Homo sapiens: one gene and its partner. The protein of the gene in region 1 interacts with the protein of each later gene in a pairwise test. Each region holds a gene or a part of one and is shown in the gene's direction. Other genes may lie near its edges.

Region 1 (3,744 bases):
TTTCTAGGTCTCTGAATAAAATACTGGTTATATAGAATTGATTCTGGAGCCAGATTGCCTGCATTCAGCTGCCAGCTCTACCACTGATTAGTGGGGGACTTTGTGCAGCCTGTTTAACTTCTCTGTGCTTCAATTGCCCCATCTGTAAAATGGGGTAATAAATAATCCTTACTTTGTAGAGTTATGGTAAGGATTAAAAGAGTTAAAATGTGTAAAGGGTTTTTAGAATGATGCCTGGCAGAGAGTGCTTGGGTAAATAAGTGTTTGTTGAAAATAAAACAAATCTGCAAATAGTTAACTGTAGTCATTGCTCAAGTCCCTTTGAGTATCGCCTTCTTTGGGACACCTCCCCGAGGCCTCCCCCACGCTAGCTGGCTTCACAGATAGGTCCATGTTGTCGCAGCACCTCCAGCACATCACAGCTGCAACATTCCTCACTGTTTCTGTAAGTCTATCTTTGTAGTTGTCAGTATCTCTCAGCTCATTTCTTAGATTCTTGAAGGCAGAGGCTGGATTTTACTCATTTCTCTCTCCCTGGAATCTAAGTCTTAGTAGGCCTTCAATAATTGTGTATTAAATGGAAGCTTGCTATGATTTTAACCAACACAGTAACTCCAGGCCAGAAAAGGCTAAGCGAGTTCTTCTAAGCCATACAGGTTTTAGTGGCTGAACAAAGACTAAAATTTTTAACCCTGTTCTTCTGACTGCCAAACCTAAGCTAATGACTCGTGTGTGTGTGTATCTGTGTATGTGTACACACGCATGTGTGTGTCCACCAGTATCATCACTAACCCCTGGCCATTTGCTTTTAAAATTATTTTATTCAGAGACTTATACAATAAGTATAAGTATACAATAACCCATGTTCTTTTAGCCTCTTCTGAGACCCTGGGTTGTTTATAATAATAATCACTATTATTCCTGAAGGGAGGCTATTGCACCCTTCCAATTATTCAGACGATTTGCTGACTGTCTGGATAATTCCGAAGCCTTTAACCCCTCCCTAACGTTAGAGGCGGTAACTTTCATCCGTTTACTTTTTCCAGGTGCGGAGGCGAAGCAGCCTTATTCAGAAAATCGAATTCAAACAGGACCTCAAGCTGCCGGCTGTTGCTTCTACCAACTGCCCCATTATTAACGCCAGACGGCGCTGTGTCCTCACTGGCTCTTTAACCACCACGTCGGGCTCACAGAAGGCTCAGGTTTCCTCCAGTATAGTTCAGGGGATGGTGAACGCTTCCCAACAAGCCTGCAACAGGCGCATTTCTTTCTGCTTTTGGTGCGTGTGTGTAGGGAAGTGTCCCATCTTTTAACTAGTCTTGCGGAGACCTGGCCTGGTGTTTGCAAATCTGTTTCCTCTATTATCGATCCGATCTCTGGATTGCTTTTTCTCTGACACTTGAAACAAATTCACTCCTATATATTTTTTAAGTGATTTTTTTTTTTTTTTTTTTTTTTTACAAAATAGAGCTGGGGCGGGGGGGGGGGGGTCTCGCTACGTTGCCCAGGCTGGTTTCGAACTCCTGGGCACAAGTAATTCTCCCACCTTGGCCTCCCAAAGTGGGGAATACAGACGGGAGCCACTGCGCTCGCCCCAAACAAAATCATTTAAATCACAATGCACTGAAGGCCGACTAGGTGTCAGGCGCCGCGCGGTCCGTCCCTTGTCCCCATGTCCCTGGCCAAAGGCTTGCTCTAGATCAGGGGACTCAGCCTCGAGGCTTTCCCGACGGTGTCAGCCAAGCACACACTCCCAGTTCGCAGGGCTTCGTGGTCAAGGTTCCTAGTTCACCTGTCTGGGAGGGCGAGGTGTGTCCACCCCTTCCAGCACCTGGGCAAACAGCTCCCTTTGCGGTCCTCTTCCACTGCTTTCCCTCCGCCCTGATTTTCCATTCCTTGTGAGCGGTGGTTTTGGTTGGGGGGAGGGGGCGGGGAAGGGGCCTGGCGAGGAGGGGCGTCAGAGCGCTGTCACCGGGTGTCGCGCCGCCCTCCCCGCCCCTCCGCCGGGCGTGTGGGGACGCCGGAGGGCGGGAGTCTCCGCGAGCCGCGCGGCGCACGGAGCACGGCGGCCGCCTGAGCTCGGCGCGGAGCCCGGAGCCCGCAGCCGACAGTCTCCTGCTCCCGTACGCTGGGCGCCAGCTCCGGCCGTGCTGCCCGGCTGCCTGAGAGCGCGCCCGGCCATGGAGCCCTCGCACAAAGACGCCGAGACGGCGGCGGCGGCGGCGGCGGTGGCGGCGGCGGACCCCCGGGGGGCGTCCTCGTCCAGCGGGGTGGTGGTGCAGGTCCGCGAGAAGAAGGGCCCCCTGCGCGCCGCCATCCCCTACATGCCCTTCCCCGTGGCCGTCATCTGCCTCTTCCTCAACACTTTCGTGCCGGGACTGGGTAAGACACGGCTGCCGCGACCCTTGCGACCCCCACCCCGCCGCGGGAGGGCGTGGGGGGAGAGAAGGGCGCGGCCGGAGACCTCCTGGCGGGGCCGCGCGCTCCAAGTGCTGCGACCACGCGCCACCGCCCGCTCCTGGCGTCCCCGGGCAGGTGGCAGAAGCGCGTGGAGTGTGCACCCCAGAGGGGAGAGGCTGCGCTGGGGTCTCCGACCCGCAGGCGGGGCCCCAAAGAGCCGGAAACTTTGCGGCCAATGTTGGAGCCCGCAGCGGCGGCCGGAATGGCTCTGCCGGCTTCGGAGTAGGGCTCCCGTCCCGGCGCCCCGATTTCTGCTCCTTCTCTCCGTCGTGTGCATCCGTCCGCGAGCCCACTTCCCCGAGAGGAATGGGGTCGGATCAGAATGAGCTCTAGGGCCTCGGCGGCGAGGATCAAACTCCCGGGCGTCGAAGTCAGCTGAGCCGGGGAAAGAGGACGAGCCGGGCTAGATATACCTGCAGCCCCCTTTGGTTCGCGGAGTGCGGACCGCGTGGGGACGAGAACTCTAGCCAGAGTCTCCTCCGCCTCATTCAGGGGTACCTGCACTTCCGCCAGCACCCCGCAGGGCGCCAGGGGGATGGGGGATGATTTTATTAGTTTGGATGCATGTGGCCAGAGATGAACCCATAGCTCCCTCGGATCCCTTCTGTTCCTGAGAAGTAGAGAGTGCGCCGATGTAATTCTGTGCAGGACTCCGGCAGCCGGCAGGGGTTCTGGTGGCATCTATGTCCCACGTTTTAAAGCAGAGGCCCCTTACAGAGATGGTGCAGGAGGGTGAATGGAGGCAGGGAATGAGAAGTTTTCCTGACCCTCCCTCCCTTAACTCCACCCCCAGGTCTCTGCCTGCACGCCCCTCCCCTCCTCCAGCTTGGCACTGGCTGCTCCTGCGTGCTGGGAGGTGCCCCCCTCTCCCGTGCCCGCCCGAAGAACCAGGCGCCCCAGTGCCCTCTCCGGGAGAAAGCGTGCCCCTGTCGGCGAGCCTGTTGCCAACGTATGGTTCCAAGTTCCCAAGAGCAGAGGCCAGCTGGAAGGGGTTTTCAGTTTGACTTTGGCCTTTCTCACGGTCTCCTCGCTCTTCGCCTGCTTAGCAGGGGCCTCTGCTGCGGTGACAGCCAAGGCCACAGCCACCCACGCAGGACCCGTTCACTTTCCCCTCCGAGCTTACTTGTCTTTCTACCCTAAGGGGCTGCTGCGGCCAGAGCAGCCTATCTGAGCAGTAAGTTAGGTGGCCTTTAGTTGGGCTTCTCTCTTCTGGGGTGCCTCCAGCAGCCTGTCCCCCTGGCTGGTGTCATCAGATCAGCTCTCTTTGCACATTTAGACACTGCA
Region 2 (3,744 bases), on another chromosome or scaffold:
AGTCACGGAAGACTCTGGCTCCAGTCACAGACTCTCTCTTCGCCCTGGGCCCTGTGGAAATCAAGGGTGTCTGGAAGTTTGCATGAACAGCCCCCTCAATGCCTGGATGGCTTAGCTCTTGGCCTCCTCCTTCATTTTTCCTTCCTTTCCCTCCTCCCATGTCCACACCCCAGTCCTGGTCAGAATCCAAAAATGAGTCACCCTCACAAACCACCCATCTTCCTCTTTCTGCTGCCCACCTCCTCTTCTCTCCGTCTTTTACTCCTCCACGCCCTGGCACCTGCTCCATGAGCCTGCAGGCTCGTGGCCCTCACCGCCCGTCTGTACCTTTCCACCTTCGCCACCGACGTCCAGCTCAGAGCTCATCCTTCTCACCATTCTCCTGCCAGCATCGCAAACTTCCTCCCTCATCTTCCTTCCACAGTGCTTTCCTGGCTTCTCTGTGTCTGCCTCTGGCTGCTGAGAGCCAGAGGCATTGGCAGTCTGTGGCAGGTTGATGCCATGCCATGTTCATGGCTGCTGACCTCAGCAGGCCCTCGGCTATGCCTGGCCTTCCCGTTTGCTTGTAAGCTTGCTACTCCCAGCAACAGCAGCTCAAACCTTCCCTGCTCTCCCACACTCCAAGCTCCAGCACTGAGAAAGTGAGACATCAGCTGGCACATCCCAAATTGTGCTGTCCTCAACTCCCCGAGCCCAGCTGACTGCCCCCAGCTTCTTGTATTTGGTGCCTACCTCCCTGCTTGGAGGCCTCAGGCTGTGGCATCTGCCTCTCCTGCAGGCCAGGCCTTCTCTGCCCTCCTGGTTTGCCACCTTGGACAAACCCTCCCTTGCCCTCATATCCTCCTCCAGCGCTTGCCCTGCTCTAAGCTTCCCAAGGGACTTGCCCAGGCTCATGGCTGCTCATTCCCTGCCTGCTCCAGCCTGGCTTCTGCCACCACCACTCACTCAGGGATCTGTCTCCACACACTCCAGGACCCTTTCTTGCTTTATGAGACCTTTTAGACTCATGACACTGCTGGCCCCCAGCCCCCGTGAAGCGTTCTCCGCCTGGCATCACCGATGGCTGGGACCTTGGTGCGTTCACCTTCCTTTGTGGTTGCCCTTTCTCATCTTTTATCTGATCCCCAAGAACCGATTTCCCCGTGCTCCTGTCTAGGTGCCATTCCCCCCTCACTCTACACACTTTGGCAGGTCTAGCTGCGCCCACAGTCTCAGGGTTGCCTTGCACCCCCTACTCGCAGAACTGTTTGTCCAGCCTGGGCTTCTCCCTGTGCTTGCAGACCTGCAGACCGTCCACCTGCTTGTCTCACAAGTGCCTCTGGCCTGCCTCAGGACCTTCAAACAGAATGGTTTTTTTTTTTTTTTTGAGATGGAGTTTTGCTCTTGTTGCCCAGGCTGGAGTGCAATAGCGCGATCTCGGCTCACCACAACCTCCGCCTTCCAGGTTCAAGTGATTCTCTTGCCTCAGCCTCCCGAGTAGCTGGGATTACAGGCATGCGCCACCACGCCCGACTAATTTTTTGTATTTTTAGTACAGACGGAGTTTCTCCATGTTGGCCAGGCTGGTCTGGAACTCCTGACCTCAGGTGATCCACCTGCCTCAGCCTCCTAAATTGCTGGGATTACAGGCATGAGCCACCACACCCGGCCCATTTTAACTATTTTAAAGTGTACAATTTAGTGGCTTTTAGTACATTCATGATGTAGTGCAACCATCACCACTGTCTAATTCCAGAACATTTTCATCCTAAAAAGAAACCCCGTACCCATTAGTGGTCCCTCCATGTTCCTCCCTAATCCCCTTAGCCCCTGGCAACCACTAATCTTTCTGTCTCTGTGGACTTGCCTATTCAGGATGTTTCACATAAGTGGGATGATAAACATGTGACCTTTGGTGCCTGGCTTCTCTCACTTAGAGTAACATTTCATGGCCTCTCGTAGTCCGTTAGTTCAGCAGGTACTTGTTGCTGACTGTGGGCCAAGATGGCACAGGATACTGGCTTTTCTGTGGCGGCACACATTAAGTAACTGAGAATGGCTTTTTTTTTTTTTCTCACTCTGTCACCCAGGCTGGAGTGCAATGGCGCAATCTTGGCTCACTGCAGCCTCCACCTCCCGGGTTCAAGCGATTATCCTGCCTCAGCCTCCTGAGTAGCTGGGATTACGGGCGTGCGCAACCACACCCGGTTAATTTTTGTATTTTTAGTAGAGACGGAGTTTCACCATGTTGGTCAGGCTGGTCTGGAACTCCTGACCTCGTGATCCACCCGCCTCGGCCTCCCAAAATACTGGGATTACAGGCACGAGCCATCGCGTCCGGCCTTTTTTTTTTTTTTTTTTTTGAGATGGGAGTCTCGCTATGTTGCCCATGCTGGAGTGCAGTGGCGTGATCTCAGCTCACTGCAACCTCTGCCTCCCAGGTTAAAGCGATTCTCCTGCCTGAGCCCCCCAGCCTCCTGAGTAGCTGGGATTACAGGCGCCTGCCACCACGTCTGGCTAATTTTTGTATTTTTTAGTAGAGACGGGGTTTTACCGTGTTGTCAAGGCTGGTCTCAAATTCCTGACCTCAGGTGATCTATCTGCTTCGCCCCCCCAAAGTGCTGGGATTACAGGTGTGAGCCACCGCATCCAGCCAAGAATGGCCTCTTTAATGTCTGTGAGCTCCCCAAGGGCAGAGACACCCTCTAGTGCCTGGCACCGCCTCCAGGGCTGAGGAGGTGCTCACCAAGTCTGTGATGCAGGAATGAAGCCGTATCCCAAGTAGGGGGCTGCGTCTGCCCAGTTTACCAGTGCGTTCTTGTCACCCAGCACGGGCTGGCCAGCGAGTATCGACACAGGGTTTGCTGAGCGGAGGAATGAGCCCTGCTTTGTGGTGGAGGGGAGCAGGTGGCAGGAAAGCCGGACCCCACTGCCCCTCCCTGACCCTCTCTGCTCTTTTATTGCAGGCAGAGTGTCTCTGGCACAGTTTGCCTTGGCCTTCGTGACGGACACGTGCGTGGCGGGTGCGCTGCTGTGCGGGGCTGGGCTGCTCTTCCATGGGATGCTGCTGCTGCGGGGCCAGACCACATGGGAGTGGGCTCGGGGCCAGCACTCCTATGACCTGGGTCCCTGCCACAACCTGCAGGCAGCCCTGGGGCCCCGCTGGGCCCTCGTCTGGCTCTGGCCCTTCCTGGCCTCCCCATTGCCTGGGGATGGGATCACCTTCCAGACCACAGCAGATGTGGGACACACAGCCTCCTGACTCCAGGAAGAGCCAGAGCTGTGCAGGGAGGAAGGGGTGAGAGGGGGGCCCCCACACCTAGACTCAGTAAGGAAGTCGGGTTGGACCTTAACATCTGCATTGGACAACTCCACCCCTTCCTTGGCCTTGCCCCTGCCCGCCTACACTCCTACGTGTCCAGGGCTTGGGCCGTGACTTAGGCAGAGGAGTGCAGAGGAGGGTCTGGCAGGGGCTGCTCAGGCCGCCTAGCTGCCCCTTTGCCAGGTTAATAAAGCACTGACTTGTTTCTCAGCCTCCCTCCATCTTTGCATAGTTTCTGGCCCCTCACTTTGTTGCTGGGGCTGTTTCTGGGACCCTCTGTAGGGCCTGGAAACTGCAGGATGCCTGAGGGTCTCAGGGGCTGGGGCTCTACCTCCCCTGGCCTGGGTGAGTTGGGGGTGGGGCACCAGCACGCCAAGGCAGTGTCCTACTGATCCAGGCTATGAGAATCCAAACATTCTTTCCCAGGTTTGGCATTTTATAGT

Evidence for each region. The genes of interacting proteins can lie anywhere in the genome.
Region 2: the proteins of STUM (region 1) and ZDHHC24 interact in binary tests that used the Homo sapiens proteins (3 or more experiments, as listed by UniProt).

Annotation. Positions count from the first base shown.
Region 1 is NC_000001.11:226,546,725-226,550,468, forward strand, and holds the start of STUM (protein stum homolog), read left to right. Parts: upstream 1-2,039; 5' UTR 2,040-2,180; coding exon 2,181-2,382; intron 2,383-3,744.
Region 2 is NC_000011.10:66,539,026-66,542,769, reverse strand, and holds part of ZDHHC24 (probable palmitoyltransferase ZDHHC24), read left to right. Parts: exon of another isoform or gene 1-2,108; intron 2,109-2,945; coding exon 2,946-3,241; 3' UTR 3,242-3,744. UniProt on the Homo sapiens protein: Probable palmitoyltransferase that could catalyze the addition of palmitate onto various protein substrates.